Linked DNA regions of Homo sapiens: regions 2 and 3 are each reported to be linked to region 1. Evidence: microRNA targets listed by miRTarBase, many of them from high-throughput screens and not tested one by one. Region 1 holds a microRNA gene; each other region holds the end of a gene's coding sequence.
What was found. The annotated mature microRNA hsa-miR-6858-5p reads GUGAGGAGGGGCUGGCAGGGAC and lies in region 1 at 2,036-2,057, opposite strand. An mRNA with a match to its seed (bases 2 to 7 or 8) in the 3' UTR can be bound and repressed. Matches are read on the target gene's strand: a 7mer-m8 pairs with bases 2 to 8, a 7mer-A1 pairs with bases 2 to 7 and ends in A, and an 8mer does both.

Region 2: miRTarBase lists SPRY4 as a target of hsa-miR-6858-5p. The part of its 3' UTR that is shown has no 7-base or 8-base seed match.
Region 3: the mRNA of CKAP2L is a reported target of hsa-miR-6858-5p. Seed matches in the 3' UTR shown: 7mer-m8 at 2,136-2,142.

What each region holds. Positions count from the first base shown.
Region 1 is chrX:154,449,377-154,452,376 of GRCh38, reverse strand. It overlaps MIR6858 (microRNA 6858), which reads right to left and starts at 2,057; the gene lies at 1,991-2,057. FAM50A (family with sequence similarity 50 member A) reads right to left here. Exons shown (of 13, transcript NM_004699.4): 9 at 2,642-2,696; 10 at 2,446-2,494; 11 at 2,278-2,348; 12 at 2,058-2,168; 13 at 1,723-1,953. The coding sequence ends at 1,945.
Region 2 is chr5:142,311,309-142,314,656 of GRCh38, reverse strand. SPRY4 (sprouty RTK signaling antagonist 4) reads left to right here. Exons shown (of 2, transcript NM_001127496.3): 2 at 1-3,348. The coding sequence ends at 448. Among named protein-coding and RNA genes, the nearest start is that of SPRY4-IT1, 5.3 kb to the left of the region's middle. RefSeq lists an enhancer at 3,238-3,348.
Region 3 is chr2:112,736,098-112,739,445 of GRCh38, forward strand. CKAP2L (cytoskeleton associated protein 2 like) reads right to left here. Exons shown (of 9, transcript NM_152515.5): 9 at 252-2,951. The coding sequence ends at 2,726. NT5DC4 (5'-nucleotidase domain containing 4) reads left to right here. Exons shown (of 17, transcript NM_001393655.1): 17 at 2,816-2,998. The coding sequence ends at 2,839. Among named protein-coding and RNA genes, the nearest start is that of NT5DC4, 17 kb to the left of the region's middle.

The DNA.
Region 1 (3,000 bases):
TTTCACCATGTTGGTCAGGCTGGTCTCGAACTCCCGACCTCAAGTGATCCACCCGCCTCAGCCTCCCAAAGTGCTGGGATTACAGGCATGAGCCACTGCACCCGGCCTCCAGCTCACTTTTGACCCAGACTTGGTGTTCCCTCTGCCTGGAACACTCCCTCCCGCATCGGAATGGCTGACTTCTTGTCATTTGGATGTCAGCTTAAATGTCTCCACGCCACAAAGGCCAGCTCATCTTGTTCTACATTTTGTTTTGTTTGTTTCCCTCTCTGTTTTCTACACACACAGCCCCCAGGAACGAGGCCCGGGTGAGCAAAGTGGGTGACCACCCCTGGCACACACTGATCCTTGGTGACCTTATCTGGTTCCAGAGCATCAAATAGCCTACTCAGCCAAACACAGTGGCTCACACCTGCAATCCCAGCAATTTGGGAGGCTGAGGTGGCAGGATCACTTGAGCCCAGCAGTTCGAGACCAGCCTGGGCAACAGAGCAATATCCCATCTCTACAAAAAAAATTTTTTTTTAATTCTGTTCCAATTTTCATGTACATAAAAATAAAAATAGCTGGGCATTGTGGTGCACACCTGTAGTCCCAGCTACTCAGGAGGCTGAGGCGGGAGGATCACTTGAGCCCAGGAGGTGGGGGCTGCAGCGAGCTGAGATTGCACCACTGCACTCCAGCCTGGGAGACAGAGCAAGACCCAGTCTCAAAAAAAAAAAAGAAAGAGGAAAGGAAGGAGAGGGGAGGGGAGGGGAGGGAAGAAAGAAGGAAGGAAGGAAGGAAGAAGGAAGGAAGGAGGGAAGGAAAAGAAAAGAAAGAAAACATTAGTCTACTCTCATCTCTATTCCTAGTGACGCCAGGTGGCTACTTCCCGGCCACGCTGAATGAGACACTGGGCCTCTGCACTATCGGGCACCATCAGATCTCCACATTTGCCAGGAAGGGGAGGCCAGACCCAGGGCTGGGGTGATCCTGGCCAGTGAGGGGCTATCCCCTGCCCTTTCTTCTTGGCTTCAGGCCAGGGGAGGAAACAGGGAGCTGTCAGCTGGCCTTCCTCAGCCTCCTGGAGCCAGGCCTGCCTGCCTCAGCTTAGCCAAGTGGAACTTGGGGAATCAGCTGCTGAGGTGGCAGAGTAGGGGTCCTGGACCTACCCCCGATCTGGATCCTGCCCCAAGGGCTGTCTGAGCAGGGCTAGCTAGGGCAGGGCAGGCAAGTGTCGAGCACAGGGCACCACAGCAGAACGACTGTGCTGGGACGGCCCACAGCAAGGAAGGCAGGATGGGTTTTCGTGGCCACAGGACGGCCACGTCCCCTACGGGAAACTCAACAGGAGCCCAAGGGCCTGGGAGAGAGGCCTGGGGAGGAACCCCCTTCCCACCCACCAGAGCCACCACCGCCCAAGGACAGGTGCCCACGGTCAAGAAGCACAGTGCCACAAAGACACCTCAGGGATGGTGGGGCTGCCACGGTGACAGACTCCCCAGGCACGTATGACACGTCCAGAACAGGTCAATCCATGGAGACAGAAAGCACATGAGAGCCTGGTGGGGGGATGTGAGGGGAGGAGCCTGCCTATGGCCACAGGGCCTTTGGAGGGATGAGAATGTCCTGGAAGCAGACCAGGGTGATGACTACACAACATGGCAAATGTGCTAAATGCCACCAAATTGTACAGTTTTAAATGGTCAAAATGACAAATGAATTTGGTCCGAACACAAATGGTTTCTCACAATGCAGGCGCTCCAGCTCTGACACGTGCACTTCTTTATTGGAAAAGAATAAAGCAGTCACTGATGTGGCAGGGGCAGGACACGAGCAGCTGCCGTCCTCCTCCCAGCGTGCCTGGCATGGTCGCAGGGGAGCGGGTGCCTGGAGTCCCGGTGACACCACGGGGCACACTGAGGGAGCTGAGGAGCCGGGGCCGCGCAGCCTCCTGGATGCTCAGCGGATCTAGTGTGAGGACAAGGTGGGCAGAGGAGACAAGGAAGGCGAGGGGTGAGCAGGGGCTGGCTGCCGTCCCCAACTTGGAGGGGTCCCTGCCAGCCCCTCCTCACCGTGTACTTGTCCCACTTCTTTTCAGGGTCGTAGGGTTCCCAGCGGCTGGCGGGAAAGATGTGCTTGTTCTTCTCGTACCAGCTCCTCAGCACCACCTTGCCTGCATGGGACTAAGGGAGGAAGAGGGCACAGGGCCGCCTGCTGACCTCCCCTTCCCTTGGCTTCTCCTCCATAGCCCAGGGACACCCGTTCCCCCTCACACGGCCCCCTACGCTGTACCTCATCCTTCTCCACAGTGGCGTCACTGAGCAACCGCACATCGTCATGAACATCAAAGTTGAAGAGTGGTCCTGCAGGGGAGAAGTGACAGCCCAATGTCCCGCTGCTGCCCCAGTGACAACATCGGCGGCAAGGTGCTATGGGGGCGGCTGGGTCGGCGGCACTCACCACTCTTCCCCCGTGCCTTGGTGACGATGAAGTCGTAGAAGCTGTGATGCTGGGAGCCAAGGGCAGGAAAGCGGCGTCTTGATGGTCCATCTCGGCCCCTCCCCACACCCCCCGCCTGCGCACACTGCCCCCACCAGCCTGAGCCAAAGCCCAGGGTGCTGCACCCACTGCGGGTACTGGGGCTGAAGGGACTCACGTGAGGGATGATCAAGTCCTCCTTGATGTACATGAGCTGCTCCACCCCTGCGGACCTGAGGGAGGAAGGCAGGAGGGCGTGGGCAAGAGGACAGCACCCCTGCCCAGGGAGGGAGGAGACAGCCAGCCCAGGAGAGCCCATGCTGGGGCTGGGAAGCAGCGGCCAGTTGGCTGTGAGGGAAGCTCCATGGTTTAGTGAGCACAGGACTGGCGCCCAGCACCCTCCACCTTTGGGCTAAGGAACCAAGGCAGGCCGCTCTCAGCAAAGCTCTCTGGTGGGAGGGAAGGGAAGAGGAGCCTGACCCCCTCTTTTGGGAGGAGAGTGCCCAGCACGCTGCTTGCTTGCCCAGACAGCGCCCA
Region 2 (3,348 bases), not on the chromosome of region 1:
GCTGGACAAGCACTTCTTGCTGTGCGAGGCCTGTGGGAAGTGTAAATGCAAGGAGTGTGCATCCCCCCGGACGTTGCCTTCCTGCTGGGTCTGCAACCAGGAGTGCCTGTGCTCAGCCCAGACTCTGGTCAACTATGGCACGTGCATGTGTTTGGTGCAGGGCATCTTCTACCACTGCACGAATGAGGACGATGAGGGCTCCTGCGCTGACCACCCCTGCTCCTGCTCCCGCTCCAACTGCTGCGCCCGCTGGTCCTTCATGGGTGCTCTCTCCGTGGTGCTGCCCTGCCTGCTCTGCTACCTGCCTGCCACCGGCTGCGTGAAGCTGGCCCAGCGTGGCTACGACCGTCTGCGCCGCCCTGGTTGCCGCTGCAAGCACACGAACAGCGTCATCTGCAAAGCAGCCAGCGGGGATGCCAAGACCAGCAGGCCCGACAAGCCTTTCTGACAGTTTGTGTCGAAGCCCCAGTGCTCTGCCTGGAAACCTGGTTCTCTTCTGACATCTAAGAAGACTGCAGCAAGGTCAGAGGTTTTAGCCTCCTGAGGCTGACCTTGCTAGTCTGCCCACTCCCTACCCCCAGCTTCGGAAAATACAGAGACCACCACCACGTACCCTGTATTCCCCAAGGTGATGAAGAAGCACTTTGGGGCTTTTTTTCAGGGTCCTGAAACTTTGTGTCAAACAGACAATGCAGGGGCAGGGTGTGGTTTGGGGGGAAATTTTTCTTTTTCAGAAGACAGAACACAGATGTGGACACATATCCGGAAACTGCAGCTGCTTGAATGCCTTCCCAGCCCCTCCTTCTCCCTCCCTCCCTCCGCCCCCCCCCCCTTCCTCTTTTCCATTGTCTTTGGCTCTCACAGGAGCTAGCTGCCTGGGAGGAATTGTTAACTGAGTACCAGGGTACCTTTAAAGAAGACCCTTGGAGTCTTCTATACCTTCTTCTCCTTCCCCATCTCACTCCACCCCACTTTGTCCCTGATGTCTTGGGGAAGGTGTAGAACACCCTAGCAGTTCCTATTGTATATACTTGGGAGCCACTGAGAACAGAGGACGGCCAGTGAGTCCAAGCCTCGTTCCTCCTTCTGCCTCCCCGGAGCCACAGGATGGATTTAGGAGCCACTGCTCAGTGCACTTCTCCCTTCCAACTGCATCAACTAACTCTCGGGGGTGTTCTGCTCACCACACCGTCCTTCGGTTCTTACTGAGTCACAGACTCGCCTGCCCACTACGTGTCCTGGGTTCTCTCTACTCAGATCCCTTCCAGAAACTTTATATGGGTAGAGGAAGCCAGGGCGGCAAATGCGAGACCAAATATCATTTTGCCAATGAGTCTGAGGCTGTGGTCTCTGGATCCAGTCATTATGTTTTTATAGAATAATTAAACCGGATGCTAACGGTGTTTTAAAAAATAATAATAAAACAACTTGTTTCCTTTTGGCCACCCCCAGGAAGGGCTGATTTCAAAATCTGGGGGCGAGCAACCTCAAGGAACACAATTTCCCTCCCTATCAACAAGAGGATTTTAACAGCAAAGAAGAGAGGCAGCACCTCCCATTGGCAGAATGACCGCTGAGCCAGGCTGGGTTTGGGTTTCTTCTCTTCTGATTCTGCTGCTCACTGTCATAGCCTTTTGTGTATAGTGATGTGTCTGTATCTTTAATGTAAATAGAGAGATGATGAAAAAAGAGTCTATTTTAGTGTTAGGAAGCCCCAGCAGGGGAGTCGGAAGAGCTTGGAAGAGCTGGGGAGAGGGTAGGGGAAAGGTTTTTCCAGGGGCCACTGGGTTTGAGCCCTGCTTCTGTGCACAGCCACACCACCCTCTCCCGACAGCCCTCAAAGACGTAGCAACTCTTTCTCTCAAGGTGCTAAAGGACTCAGAAGGTGCAGCACGTCCAGTGGGTAGGTACTTGTTGCATGCAAAAGCTGTAGTGTATCTGGTCCTTCCTCCCCAGCTTTTGTGTGGGGTTCTTGCTTTGTGTGGTATTTTGTTTTCCCCTCTAATGAGAGGGCATGGCCTGAGTCAGAAGAGCTACCCCAGGTGAAACTGGAAGTGCATGAGGCAGAGCGTCCGTAGCATTTCCAGTTTGTTCTGTATAGGAACAGAGGTGCCTCCGGGAAGGAGGCAGCGAGGTAGGTAGCTATGATAGGCACCTAATGCTTCTCAAGGACTTATTTTTTCCTTCTTGAAGACTAGTAGTAACATCTTATGATTTAGAGTAAGTTGATTGTAACCATAGGTATTTATTGATTGGAGGAAGGGAGGGTCATATTATTTTCGGCTTTATTTATGTAACATTTGCTAGCTTGTAAAAGGCGAATGTGAAATATTGCATCTGCATTTTCCAAGGCTGATTCGTGTAGCTACCCTTGCCACAGTTGTGACGGATGTATGGATGTTCTTGAACATTTCAGAAGGAGTGGTAGAAAAAAACACACATTCAGCCAACCACTTATATGAATTGAATGTATCAGAAGTGTACTGAAGGGACTGGAGATGGTTTTCCTCAGATGAGGGGGCCCCAAAATTGATAGTGCACATCTGCACGCTTTCTGCGAGGCCTCAGAACTTCCCAGGGCCCCTCCCTCAAATTGTCTCCATGGGAAACTTGACCCAGTGGCAAGTTGCACTTTGGTGATCTTGGTGGTCTACACACCCGTTCTGTGGAGAGTCGATTTACATAAGCTGTGTATACACACACACACACACACACACACACCCCTACCCCACACTGACTGTCTACCGACAAAGACCCTATTTCCTGGCAAACGGCCTCCTGAACCCTGACTTTTTGTGTACATACTTGTAAACACGGATTTTTCTGGGTTTTGGTTTGCTTTTTCCTTTTTTCCCCCTGCCCCTGTTCTAGCTTGTTCTTCTTGGTTTGCTTTCAACCTGCTTGATGGATGTCTGCAGAGTGCTCTCTAAGAGTCCACCTCAGTGCCTCGTGTGCTCAGTGGTCATGGGAAAGGAGCGAAGGAACCATCCTTGGTTCTCCCAGCTTGGTTGTGTAGCAATCCCTCAGCATTGTTTTTCTCAGCTTCTTGGCAAAAATTAAAACAACAACAACAACAACAACAACAACAACAAACAGAAGGATAAACTGGCTTGCCTGTGGACCCTCCCCGGCTCTGGGGCCAGTCGAGAGCCACTGAGGGACCCAGCACTCAGAGACACAACACACATGTGTAGCTGCTTCTGGCTGAGTGTGTTTCCTGTCACCAATGGCCTGTTTGGCTGGACGATGCCTCGGCTTGACCTTTTTTGAAAAGTGCTGGTTAGTTCCCGCCCCTGGTAAACCTGGGGTAGGTGGGGGTTCTGTCTTAACTCGAGGGGCACCTGGGAT
Region 3 (3,348 bases), not on the chromosome of region 1:
AGAAAAAAAGTAAGTGCACAAGCAATGGATGGCACTGCAGGATCGATCATGAGAACCTGGTCGACGGGCTTAGGACAGTGTCTGAGGTTCAAGGCAAGAATATTCCTAACACAGGACTCACTTCAGACTCTCTAAGCCTGGTGATTTTGAATATTTGATGCCTCTACGTCCTATGTTCAGATTTTGTGATCTCTAAGCAGCCCTCTGAGCATTACTTGGCTTCACAGGTAAAGTTAACTCTAATTCTTGCATTTTGGTGACAATTTTATTTTATTAGGTATATTTAAGATTTACAACATGATGTTATGGGATACATATAGATAATAAAATGGCTGCTATAGTGAAGCAGATTAACATTATCATCTCAGTTTTTTTGTGATAATAGCAGCTAAAATCTACTTATTTAACAAAAATCCCTAATACAATTGTATTAACTTTAGCCCTATCTCTAGACTTGTTCATTTTATCTGCTATTTTGTATCCTTGGCCTGCATCTCCCCATTTCCTCTTCCCCAATCTGTGGTAAGCACTTTCTCTGTGTACTTGAGCTCTTTCTTAAAAAATTAAATATTCCATATGTGAGATCATGCAGTATTTTTCCTTGGGTCTGGCTTATTTCACTTAGCATAATGTTCTCCAGGTCCATCTATGTTGTGGCAAATGGCAAGAACTCCCTCTTTTCCAAGGATGAATACTATTCCACGGCATGCATATGCCGTATTTTCTTTATTTGTCCATTGATGGGCATTTAGGTTGTTTCCACATCTTGGCTATTGAGAATAACACTGCCACAAACATGTGAGTGCAGATATCTTTATGAGGTGATGATTTCATCTTTTTTTTTTTTGAGATGGAGTCTTGCTCTGTAACCCAGGCTGGAGTGCAGTGACGCAATTTTGGCTCACTGCAACCTCCACCTCCCGAGTTCAAGTGATTCTTCTGCCTCAGCCTCCCAAGTAGCTGGGATTACAGGTGCCCGTCACCATGCCCGCCTACTTTTTGTATTTTTAGTAGAGACGGGGTTTCACCATGTTGGTCAAGCTGGTCTTGAACTCCTGACCTCAGGTGATTCACCCACTCCAAAGTGCTGGGATTACAGGTGTGAGTCACTGCGCCCAGCTGGTGATTTCATCTTCTTTGGGTACATACTTACTCAGAAGAGGGTCAGATAACAGTTCTATTTTTAATTTCTTTAGGAGCCTCCATACCGTTTTCCATAACGGCTGCCCCAGTCTACACGCCCACAAACAGTGTACTAGGGTTCTCTTTTCTCCACAATCTCATCAACATTTATCTCATGTCTTGTTAATAGCCATTCTTATAGATGTGAGGTGATAGCTCACAGTGGTTTTAATTTACATTATTCTTATGATTAATGATGCTGAACACCTTTTCATATCTATACCTACTGGCCATTTCTTATGTCTTCTTTGGAGAAATGTCTGCTCAGGTCCTTTGCCCATTTTTAATTATTAGTTTTTCCACAATTGAGTTGTAAGAGTCTCTTATTGAAAGTCTGCTGGTATTACAGGTTTATAGCTCAGTTTTTTGAGCTTTATTATAAATCTGACTTTCAGAAATAGATCTGCTTCCCTTAAAAAAATCTAGTTCCTGGATGAGGCTGATAGACCTTTGATCAAAGTCCATTCTCCTTGGTAATGAATGCTCCTTGTTTCTTAGGACAGCCAACTGGTATATCCTTAGACAAACTCCTAATTCTCTATGCAAAGCCATTATCATGGTTTTCTATAATAAATAAGATAAACAAGCAGGAACTAATAGAAATTTAATGTTGTTTTAAGATAATACTTAAATATTAAGAAAGCTAAAATTTAAAATGTGTTGACTAGGTTTTTCTACACAATTATATTTACATAATGACTAAGGTAAAACCTTTCCACAAATAGTTGCCCAGGAGGAAGAAAAAGCAACCTACAACAGTCTCTGGGGCTTGCACTGCCTTCTCAGGCCAGCTATACCCTAGCTGAGCAAAGAACTGAAGAAGCAAGTGTCCACTCCCCACCCCTCTCCCCTGCCCCCCTTTTGTTACTTGAAGTGTTTCTGAGTAACAAATGCAAAACTAGGTTTGAATATAAAAGCTAGACGACCATGCCAATTCAGGATTGTGTTTCATCTGAGGAGACCTGGCATAGAAAAAACAAGAATTCTCTCTCATTTACAAGGATACTGTGATGAAAGTCAAAGATCACACATAAATTTATGATCTCTGAGCAAAGGCACAGCTAGCATAAACTCATCTGTAAAATGAGGGGTTTTGACTTGGCCATCTGTCAAGGTCCATTCAGCCTGTCAAGCTAGCGTCAAAGTTCAGATCTTCCACGATGAAAGAACTTGCCCTCTGCTAAGGTGGATGCAGAAAGAAAAGTCCCATTATATTGTGGGACCAACCTTCTGATATAAAAAACTATGTTGGGATTAAAGTAGATCAATAAAGTATAAATATTTATCATAGTTGTAGGGTAAATATTCAAAAGTTTGAAATTTATGTATACTGTAAAACTGGCAAACTGGTCTTAAACACATAAAGCAAAGATTTTCCCATGGGGAGAGAAAATTTGAGAGTAAGCCCAGTGAATTACTTAAGTCCTGAGCGTCCATAATCTGCATCCATGATGCCTCTCTTTTTTTCCAGGTCACTTGGACAAGAATATTTCTTGTCTTATGTTGGTTCTGAAACACCTTTTTTAAAAAAAGCATCAAGAAATTATGATTCAGGGGTTTGAAACCCCAATGTTACAGGCAGCGCCTCATTTCTACGGAATATAAAACATTTTGTTTCTTCCACTTCTAACAGTTCATCAAGAGAAGCCACTACTAAATCGTGTTCCTGCAGCATTTCTGGGTAGCGGGACACTGCTCGCTCAATCCTCGACGAACGCCGTACAGGAGTGATAAATTTCATGTCTTGCACTTCCGGCATCCCATTTATTCTGAGAGACAGCAAGAGATGCATTAAAAACCTTATCATTTAAAAAAATTATCTTTATTATTTTTTGTTTCTTATTCAATAATAAAACAGGGAAGACATTTTAACATAGGGTGATACAAGAGATATGTCTAGAGCAGCTTTCATCTTCAGATGGCTTTTTCTAGGAGTTCGAGACCAGCCTGGGCAACATAGCAACACACTATCTTTACCAAAAAATATAAAAATTAGCTGGGCATGGTGGCACACACCTGTAATCCCAGCTACTCAGGAGGGTGAAGTGGGAGGACTGCTTGAGCCCAGAAGGTCAAGGCTGCAGTGAGCTATGATTATGCCATTGTACTCCAGTCTGGGCAACATGGCAAGACCCCAGTCTCAAAAAAAAGGCTTTTCCCTGATTT